Regions from separate parts of the Homo sapiens genome. Here region 2 is linked to region 1. Evidence: fine-mapped expression QTL. A gene starts in region 1. The other region holds a variant in brackets. All regions are shown on one strand. Distances are between the middles of the regions.

The links. PIP is the estimated chance that this variant, and not a neighbour inherited with it, causes the effect.
Region 2: its variant is fine-mapped to the expression of SMIM17 in left ventricle (GTEx, PIP 0.98). The same link has a PIP of 0.9 or more in skeletal muscle.

What each region holds. Positions count from the first base shown.
Region 1 is chr19:56,640,618-56,645,993 of GRCh38, reverse strand. It overlaps SMIM17 (small integral membrane protein 17), which reads right to left and starts at 2,835. Exons shown (of 4, transcript NM_001193628.2): 1 at 2,784-2,835; 2 at 158-426. The coding sequence starts at 326. ZNF71-SMIM17 (ZNF71-SMIM17 readthrough (NMD candidate)) reads right to left here. Exons shown (of 5, transcript NR_163263.1): 3 at 158-426.
Region 2 is chr19:56,620,190-56,625,565 of GRCh38, reverse strand. It overlaps ZNF71 (zinc finger protein 71), which reads right to left. Exons shown (of 4, transcript NM_001370215.1): 4 at 1,080-4,298. The coding sequence ends at 2,809. The region is part of intron 2 of ZNF71-SMIM17 (ZNF71-SMIM17 readthrough (NMD candidate)); the gene reads right to left. Among named protein-coding and RNA genes, the nearest start is that of SMIM17, 20 kb to the left of the region's middle. The variant C/A (reference allele first, on the strand shown) is at 2,677.

The sequences.
Region 1 (5,376 bases):
GGGGATGACTTGTTACACAGCAAAAGCTGACTGACACAGTGCTCCATGAATAGCTGTTGAATGGATGAGTGAAGGAGTGAATGTTTAGTCTTTCCCTAGGCTCTGCCAATTCCTTCCTCTCCACCCACTCACCTCCCAAAGGACCCCTGCCTCTCACCTTTCTCATCACTGTCATGGCTGGAGGCCCCAACCTCCACAGCCTCCCAGTCTTTGGTGCAGGCGGGATGAGGAGGCTTCTCCCAGGCCCGGCTCTCCCGAGGCAGCAGAGTCTTGGTCCTCTCAGGCTCCAGCAGCCCCCGTGTCTGCTCAGGCCTGAGACTCTGCATTGCCCCAGGAGGAGGTGGAGCTTCTGAGACAAGCTTCTCTTTCTCCTCCTGCTCCAGGGTCCTCTCTGGTTCTCCAGGCACAAGATTCAGAACCTGAGGACTGATGGACATTTCATCATTCAGTGAATCATTACAGAGGGCCAGCAGGGGCTAGGCACGACTGTAAGCATTAGAAATACAGCAGTAATCAAGTGGAGATTCCTGCCCTCCTGGGGCTTACATTCTAGTAGGGAGACAAAGAGACAGGCAGGGAACAAATAAAGCACACAGCAGGTCAAACGCTAGAGGGTGCTCTGGAGACAAAGCTGGAAAGGGAGTGATTGTCATGGGCAGGCACATGCAGACACACACACTCACATACTCCCATATACACACATACAAACATAAACACATCCACACATACACACACACAGACACACAGTCACATACACACACACTAACACAAACACAAACACACACACATCCACATTCACACACACTCACATAGACTAACACACACACTCATACACACTCACAGTCACACACACTCACATTCATACTCACACACATACACACTCACATACTCATATACACACCTACAGCCACACATGATTCTCCAGTCTGCACATTTGTATATAACAAATGGGATAGGAAACGACATGAATTAATAAATAAATCAGCCAGGCGAGGTGGCTCACACCTGTAATCCTAGCACTTTGGGAGACCAAGGTGGGAGGGTTGCTTGAGCCCAGGAGTTTAAAAATTAGCCAGGTGTGGTGTCACGAGCCTGTAGTCTCAGATATTGGAAGGATCCTTTGAACCTGGGAGTTCAAGGCTTCAGTGAGCTAGGATCGTGCCACTGCACTCCAGCCTGGGTAAGAGAGAAAGACTCTCTCAAAAATCAATCAATGAGTCAATCAAGAGGACTCTTTTACTGTCACTTTTCTACAAATGAAAATTAAATATAGGTCCAGAGAAATACTTCTCTATTGTAAGGAGCACATGAACAAATGGCAGTGGATATATGGCATGGGGAGAGACGACGGAGGCAGTGGGGAGTGGGGCAAGAGAGATCAGGTCTCCTGTCTGAAGAAGCTGCACCATGCAACTCAGCTAATGTCTGCAGAGCAAACGCATGGGACTGGTGTCGCCCATCCTGTGATTTCTCAAAAGAAGACTGGAAATCTATATTTTCAGATGGCATTTTCTACATTTCATGATGTCAATAATTATTTCCAGTGTTTAACAGGAAGACACCTTTAGTCAAATAGCACAAGTTGTGGGGCTGAATTAGACCCTGGGGTTGCCCATTTGCAACCTCAGTGTGGGCCGGGGAGTCTGTTGGGAGTGAGGAGAGGAGGCTGCCTAGACATTTTTCAGGGCAAGAAAATTCCTATGGGACCTTCGTGGGAAAGAGTGTTAGAGAGTACCATTAGGGAGTTCTGATTTGTTTATTGCTTTGGGGTTTTGCTTGGCTTTGTTTTTAATATGAGACATAATTAATCATGGATCTAGGTTGAGGGGAGGGGAAGGCATGAGAAAGGAGAAAATGCAGGCAAGCGGGGTGACAGATGGGAAAGACGACAGCCATCAGGTCAAGGTCAGGAGAAGCTGGATCCGCAGTGAATGGAGGAGGAAGAAGGAAAGGGGATGAGACAGAGGTATGGTGGGGGGAGGAGATTCACACCCCACAGCCTCAGTGTTCATGGTGAAATAGCAAACAAGTCATCCCCTGAGAGAATGGAGACGCAGTCACAACAACGACAACCAGCAACCACAGTAAAAGCAATAAAAATACCGGCAGTGTTTCCCGGAGCCCAGAACTCTCCTTGTGCCCAGCCCTGCTGAGCCCTGCGAATCCCTTTTCTCACATAAAGGTGGCCATACTTCTCGCTACAGATACTATTAGGTTTCCATTTAACAGACAGGGAAGTCCCCTGATCAAAGCCACACAGCTCAGAAGAGTGGGGGCGGGGCTGCTGCACCTGTTTGCTGAGAGCCTGCGCTCCCACCGTTGCAGGGTGGTCCACAGGGGCCCAGGCGGACACACAACGCGAACACGCACAGGTGCACACTCGGGCAGGTGCGCTGAACACCCCAGGGGGAGCGAACATCGACACCAAGCCCCAGCGAGACGAGCGCACGTGCCCGTGCCGCCCCACGAGGGTACACAGGTCTGTGCTCCCCTCCTCACGAGGAGGCTGGAATTCACCTGCAACCCCCAAGCCAGGACACAGACCTCCGCTGCGGAGAAACAGACCCGACCCCGACAGACCCCGGTCCTCTCCCACCGGACGGGCTTGGAGACGCCCTCTCCCCGGACCCTATCCCTGGAGCGGTTCTGCCCCTCACCCTCGCCCAGGCACACACACCCTCTGCGCATCCATACTCGCGCGCGCATCCCCGGATCGCCGCCCGCGCCCCCAGCCCCTTTTCTCCGCCTCCTTCCCGCCCGCGGGGGTCCCTCGAAGGACTCACCCTCCCCAACCGGACCCTGTCTGGGCTCTGCAGAGCTGGCGCCGCACTGACTGCGGCTGCGCAGACGCGGAGGCTGCGGGGGGGTGGGGGGAGGTGGGAGATGGGAGGTGGGGGAATTGGGGAGCGTGGGTGTCCTCCTCCCCTCCTCCACCCCCGGGAAGCCTGCACCTGGAGGCGCGTGGGGAAGGGAGTGGATGAGCCGCAGAGGCGGGGTACCCGCGGCGTGGTTGCAGGGGGGTGTGGTACCGAGCTGGTCCATCTCTAGCTGATGAGCACGTAGGTTATGTTCGAGGTACCCTGCGACAGACGCCCCAAGGCCAGCGGCTTTGCGTACGCCCCCCGTGGTTCTCCAGTCTGCAAACCGGGAGTCCGGGGTGGGCGGAAGGGAGAAGGAGCTGGGGCAGGGGGTGGCAGCCCGGGGACCCTGAGGCCCGACCGCCTGGGGCAGCGGCTGGCTTTGCCATTTGTTACTAGTGAGTCCTCGGGTGTGTTACTTAACATTTCCGTGCCTCGGTTGCCCATGCTGTTAAGTGGGAATAATTATGGTTACCAAGTCCCAGGATTTCTGTGAAAGTAAAACAATAATAACAATAATAAGTAATACACGTACAGTTCTTACAACAGTGCCTAATAGCTGCTATTATTATCAATGACCATTGTTGTTCAAATTTACAATGCAGTGACTACAGCCAAGTTGCTCTCATGGAGGCTACATTAAATTTTTAAAATTTTCGGCAAAGCCATAGGTAGGGGGAAAACGGCGTCCCTGCATCATCTTAGCTACATTTCCCTGATTACTAGTGAGGAGAATTAAACACATGTATTTGAACAGGCTTATTCTCTCTTCTGTGAATTACCCGTTTATCTCCTCCTCTCCGCATTGTTCTATTTGTTTATGTAGCTTTTACTTACTGATTAATAGACATTCTTTCTATATTCTGCACATTAATCCTTTGCCTGTTACTCTATCTGTGGCAAATATTTTCTCCTGGCTCCTCCCTTATGTTTTTATTGTGTTTACACAGTGCCTGAAGTTTTGAATTTTAATAAAAATACAAGATATCCTTTTTATTTATTTATTTATTTTTTGCTTTTAGGGTCTTAAGATGCCCTTCCTCAGCCTTGTCTCTCCCTCTCTTCCCCGCCCCTCCTCCCCCTCCTTGTCTCTTTGAGACAAGGTCTTACTCTGTCACCCAGGCTGGAGTGCAGTAGTGTGATCATAGCTCACAGCAGCCTTGAACTCCTGGCCTCAAGTGATGCTCTTGCCTCAGCCTCTTGAGTAGCTGGGACTGCAGGCATGTGCCACCACACCTGGCTAATTTTTAAATTTTTTGTAGAAACAGGGTCTCACTATGTTGCCCAGGCTGGTCTCAAACTCCTGGCCTCAACTGATCTTCCCAGCTCAGCCTTCCAAAGTGCTAGGATTACAGGCATGAATCACTTCTCCTGGCCTCCCCTTACTCTCATAAACACATTTTCCTGTATAATCTTATATTTTACAGTCTTATTTTATATATTTATTTTGTTTGAACCTTCTGGAATTTTTTTGAATGGTATGAGGTAAGGATTTAACCTCCTTTCCCTAATGGATAGAAAATTGAATTACCCTGGTTATTCAGAAAAACAAAAATAACTGTCATTTATCAAAAAAATACTACAAGGAAAGCCATCTCGTTAATATTATCTCATTTAATTCCAACAGCCCAAAGTGGTAGTATTATTATCCCCATTTAACAGAGAAGAGAACTGAGGCACAAAGGAGTTAAATGAGTTGTACAAAGGACACACAGTAAGATTATGGAAGGACTGAGATTGGGTTTGCCTACGAGTTTTCAGATAGGTTATGTAATTGGGATGGGAAACTTTCTTCATTTCTATGTTTAGAAGATGAGTTTCCTGCCATTCCAAAGATAGTTCAGAGTGTGCAGAGAAGAGAGATGAAGTGTCAAGAATTAGACATTTCATCCAATCCTCATCACCTCCTTTGATAACAAGACATTTAGTGCAGGAGACCAGGTGAGCTGCCCCAGGTCACAGAGTCTTGAGAGGGTTAGGAACTGGGCATCCAGATGCAGATCTAACAATGTACTAGCTGTATAACTTTGGGAAGTGAATTAACTCGGTCTCAGTTTCCTTACCTGCAAAATGGGGACAATAATATTTTCTACCTCATAGGGTTAGTGTGAACATCATATAGGTTAATACATATGCCTCCTAATTTTGAGTGCTCAGTAAATGTCACTGGTATTATCATTATAATTATTGAACAGCAGGTCCTCAATATGGGGTAAAAATCTCCAGTTATGATCCTGATAGTCCAGATGAATTATGGTTGTTTCAAAATGGACTCAAGTTTGAGGGGCTTCCCCAGAATTCTGAGGGAACAAATTTTTTTTTCTTTGAGACGGAATTTTGTTCTTGTTGTCCACACTGGAGTGCAGTGGCACAATCTCGGCTCACCGCAACCTCCGTCTCTCGGGTTGAAGCGATTCTCCTGCCTCAGCCTCCCGAGTAGCTGGGATTACAGGCTTGCACCACCATGCGCAGCTAATTTTTGCATTTTTAGTAGAGATGGGGTTTCTCCATGTTGGTC
Region 2 (5,376 bases), 20 kb after region 1:
GGTCATTCAGACCCCACCCAGCACCCATGACCTCTACCTCAAGGCCAGGCTTGGGTCAGGCCTGGGGACACAGGGACACAGGGACACAGGGCCCAGTGAGGGTGAACTCGAAGGCCAGCACATAACCCCAAATAGTGCCTTGGACAGATGTATGGGATAGAAGACTTGTTAAAAAGCAGGTTCCTGACCTGCTTGATCCCTGCCAAACCCACATTTTCAGGGGGGTAAATTTAATTTGGCTTCAGTAAGTACCTGACTGAGGAACTGGTGGGTGGAGTGGTGCCGTGGACTGCAGTCCAGCTTCTGGAGTCAGAATGGGTTTGAATCCAGCAGCTGTGTGACCTTGGGCAGGTGCCTGAACCTCTGCGAGCCTGTTTCCCCATCTGTAGAGTGGGGGTGATGAGAGCGCCCCCTCAGAGTTGGACAAGTGACTCCGTCAATGTGGCCATTATTCCAGCCACCTCAGGGTTCCTCTTGGGGAAACGTGGAGCCCTGAGTGGGGAGCTTGCCCAGGAGGCGGGAGACCAGGGATGTGAGACCCACCTGGTACCACAGCATCCCCCCAGAGGAGCCTCAATGCCCTCCACATCAGCTTGGGTTGCAGAGAAAAGAAACAGGAGGGACCTGAGAGGTGGCCCGGCTGGTTCTCTGGATGGGAGAGGGGGATGGTGGTGGTGCAGCCTCGATCCCATCTCTGCTTCACACACTGGGGAGTCCAGGAAACCAAGGCCAGGAGTCAAGTCCTGAGAAATTCAATATGTCCATCTCTAGAAGTAGTCCAGTGTAGGCAAGGAGCACGGACCTCGGAGCCCAGGTGGACCCCAGCTCACACCCTGTCCCCTCCACTTCCATGTTGTGTGCCCTCAGGAAGCTTACCTTGCCTCACTGAACCTCAGATTCCTTATCTATACGACATGCACATGAATCCCTACCTCGAGGATCTTGTGAGGGTTAAATGAGCCATTTCATCTCTCCAAAGGGCCTTAGAAGGTCTTCCCCTCCATTTTGCTGCTAAAGAGTAGTAAAATCTTGTGTACATATTAGCTAACATTTGTTGACTGTTTTAACACTCCATTCTCTGCAGTGCATACATATTCTCATTTATTCCCACAACAGATGCAACTAAAGCAATGTCTGATCAAGACTCGCTGCTGGAAACCACCACAATCCCACGTGGGAAGCCAGCCTGAGGATGATGTTAAGAAGTATGAAGGGAGAGCCAGAGCATCACAGAGAACCACAGCTATGGCTCCAATGATGAGAGCCTGAATCAAACCCACCCTGAGGCCCACTTGACTGCCAGAATTTGAAAAACGGTCCACCTTGTTTATACGTGCCCGAGTGGCTGTTTTTCTTATTTGCAGAATGTGCTTGCTGATATAATTTTTTTTCTGTATTATTTATTTGTGTACACCAGTGTCAGGGAGTGTGGAACAACTGGAAATGCCAGAACATTAGCAACCAGTAGTATCAAATAACAAAATTAAAAGTATGGCCTAAAAGGCCCCAGAGAAAGTGCACTTTGGGGAACACTCTTATGTGTAAACAGAGCTTCAGTCGGCCTTAGGAAACTCACTCGAAGTTACTGATATGGTCTGTTGGTGCTTCCCTGTATTCACATATTGGAAACTTGATCCCCAATGTAACAGTATGAAGAGGGAGGACCTTTGGGAGGTCATGAGGTCAGGGCCCTTGTGACTGGGATTAGCACCCTTATAAGGGGCCTGAGGAAGTCTGCCGTTTACAACCACGTGAAGACACACATCAAGACACAAGCACTACCTATGAAGAACATACCCCATCAGACACCAAATCTGCCAGAGCCTTGATCTTGGACTTCCCAGCATCCAGAACCATGAGTGACAAATTTCTATTGTTTATAAATTACCCAGTCTAAGGTCTTTTGTTACAGCAGCAGGAAGGGACTTAAGACAGTTGCCTTCACATTTAGCTGCAAAAATCACTATAAAAATAATCTGTGCTCAGATGTATATACTTATTGAATCCATGCATATTTCTTTCTGAATATCAAACCTGCTGCTGTTTCTTTTCCTTCTTGCCCCTCCCACAATCACTGAAGCCGATTTTGACCAGACAACTGGCCAAAACAGAAGACTGTTTAAAATAACATAGTCTCCCTTAATTAAAAGTTTTATTTTTAAAAAACGTAACAGACCACTCTAAGAAACTTTGGCATTCAAAGCAGTAGTTACTGTTATTTGCTAACTCTGAAAAAAAAATTTTTCCCCTCACAAACAACCGGCAAACTCCTGCCACTTCCTAGCTTGGTGGCTGCCAGCGTGCACTGCAGGGAAACGGTGGGTGGAGGGATAGGAAGGCCCTCACGCTCCCAACCCACGGAGAAAATGCAGATGGTGACAAGCTGCATCTGGACTCCAGGATGTATCTGACAAAGAGGGAGATGTCTCCTCCCTCCCCTCCACCAGCTCCACTTTCCCGCTGAAGAAACAGAGATGTGGAGGCAGGCGTGACCTGTCCCAGCTCTAGGACAGTTACTCAAGAGGGCTAGTCTGGAACCCTGATGTCTGTTACCAGCGGCCATGGCTCAGCTACAGTGAACCTTGAAGTGTCCCCAGATACGTCAGACACCGAGGGGCTTGCTTTCTGAGGCTCAGTAAGGAGGGGGCATGTGTGATCAGCCAGCCCCTCCACAAC[C/A]CCACATTCCTGAGCTCCCCTGACCCCGAGTCCCCACCCCAGGGGAGAACTTCTCACAGCACTGCTGACAAAGCGCGCAGCCATCTGGCGTCCGTCCTGGGCACCGCCAGTGAGAGCCCTGCACAGAGGCGCTCAGGTGTGAATCCGCAGGTGGCGCGTCAGGTTCGTGTTGCGGCTGAAGGTCTTCCCGCACTCGCCGCATCGGTAGGGCTTCTCGCCCGTGTGGATCCGCTGGTGCACAGTGAGGGAGGAGTTCTTGATGAAGGACTTCCCGCACTGGCCGCACCTGTACGGCTTCTCGCCGGTGTGGATCCGCTGGTGCTCGATGAGGTAGGCGCTCTGGCTGAAGGCCTTGCCGCACTCGCCGCACACGTAGGGCTTCTCCCCGGTGTGCACGATCTGGTGCACGATGAGGGACGAGCGCCCCGTGAAGTGCTTCTTGCAGATGTAGCACTCGTAGGGCTTCTCGCCGGTGTGGATGCGCTGGTGCTGCGTGAGCGAGGAGTTCTTGCTGAAGGCCTTGCCGCACTCGCTGCACTCGAACGGCTTCACGCCGATGTGGAAGCGCTGGTGCTGGATGAGGTAGGAGCTCTGGCTGAAGGCCTTGCCGCACTCGCCGCACACGTAGGGCTTCTCGCCGGTGTGGTTCCTCTGGTGCAGGGTGAGCGAGGAGCTCTTGTTGAAGGCCTTGCCGCACTCCTTGCAGGCGTACGGCTTCTCCCCGGTGTGCGTGCGCTGGTGCTCGGTCAGGTGCATGTTCTGGCTGAAGGCTCGCCCGCACTCGGGGCACACGTACGGCTTCTCCCCGGTGTGCGTGCGCTGGTGCACGATGAGGTGCATGTTCTGGCTGAAGGCCTTGCCGCAGTCCCCGCACGCGTAGGGCTTCTCCCCCGTGTGGATCCGCTCGTGCTGGGTGAGAGAGGAAGTCTTCCGGAAGGCCTTGCCACACACGTCGCACACATACGGCTTCTCGCCCGTGTGCGTGCGCTGGTGCACAGTGAGGTTCATGCGCTGGCTGAAGGCCTTGCCGCAGTCCCCGCAGGCATAGGGCTTCTCGCCCGTGTGCACCCGCTGGTGGATGGTGAGGGACGAGCGCTCGATGAAGTGCTTCCCACAGGTGTCACACTCAAACGGCTTTTCTCCCGTGTGGATCCTTTGGTGCTTTATCAGGGACGAGCTTCGGCTAAAGGCCTTGCCACACTCGCTGCAGTCGTAGGTTTTCTTCTCCTCGCAGGGCATGGGGGGCTTACTGAGGTCTGAAGTGCTGGAGAAGTTCTTGCCACGCCTTACGGGTGGACAGGCCCCCTTTTCTGTGGGGTCGTCCAGCCGTGGTGGGACCAGGACACAGCCTTGGTTGGCAAATGCCTTCAGTTCATGACATGCGGGTACTGAGCCCCCTAAGAGTTTGTTCCCCTGGGGAATTCCCAATGGCTCCCACTCTGCACCTGCATCTCCCCGCGGCCTCTCTGGCCAGCTGCCTGGTTCCCACACTCCTTCTGAGCCAGGACCCCTGGCACCATTCCTCGTGGGTCCCCCCGTGGCCTCCCCAACAACGGAGAGCTTGTCTTCCGAAATGTCATTCTTTGGATCCAACTCTTTCATTTCAGGTCTAGTCTCCCAGTCTGAAAAAAACAAAAACAGAAGATGCAAATACATGTAGTTAAAGATGCTGGGAGTGAGGAAGCTCCACAGCAGGAAGGAGCAAATGAAACCGACCCCAATGAGGCCCAAGGCACAGAGCGAGTTAGCAAAGAAGAACCTTGGATCAGAGAGGGAGGGAGGAGGGAGGCATGGAACTGAGGCCAATGTGGTTTATGAAGCAGAGTCAACACAGGAGGTGAACAGGGAGAGCAAATGTCCCTTCAGAAGAGGGATGACAGGCACTCCTGGAGAGAAACTGCAGTAGTGAGCTGGGCTTGCAGGGAGCAAAGGGCAGGCTCTGCAAACCTGAGTAGGAATGACTGCAGCCGGCTACTGACTTGCAGGGCCTCCTCACTTCATCCTGCAGATCCACAACCAGTCGTGCTCCTCAAGCAACAGTTTTTATCAGAAATAATAAGATGGCCAGGCACAGTGGCTCATGCCTGTAATCCCAACACTTTGGGAGGCTGAGGCAAGGATTGCTTGAGACCAGCCTGGGCAACATAGTGAGACCCCCCACCCCCGCCTCTACTAAATTTTTTTTTAAAAATTAGCCAGGCATGGTGGCACATGCCTATTGTCCCAGCTACTTGAGAGGCTGAGGTGGGAGGATCACTTGAGCCCAGGAATTCGAGGTTGCAGTGAGCTATGATCACGTCACTGCACTCCAGCATGGGTGACAGGGTGAGACCCTGTCTCTTAAAAAATAAATAAATAAATAAATATTGAAAAAAGAAGAAAAAGAATAAAGAAATAATAAATAGCTAGCATTTATATGGCATGTGTTGGTTATTCTCTACTCCTTCGACCCACTTTCTATTCTCCACCCTTCTCTGACCTGCCCTGTGCTCAGGATGCTGACTTTGCCCACTGGCTTCCTGTGTGTTTGGCCAAAGGCAGGAAACTGGAAGTGAAATGAGAGAAAAATCGGGCATTTCTCCTGCCCCTTTGCCACTTCTCTGGTATGGCTGCCCCAGGGTTGCTGGCTGCAAGATCCTCTCCCCTGGCTGGGGCTCCGGCTCCCGCTAGCTCATCACGCACCTGCCCTGGCTGGCCCCA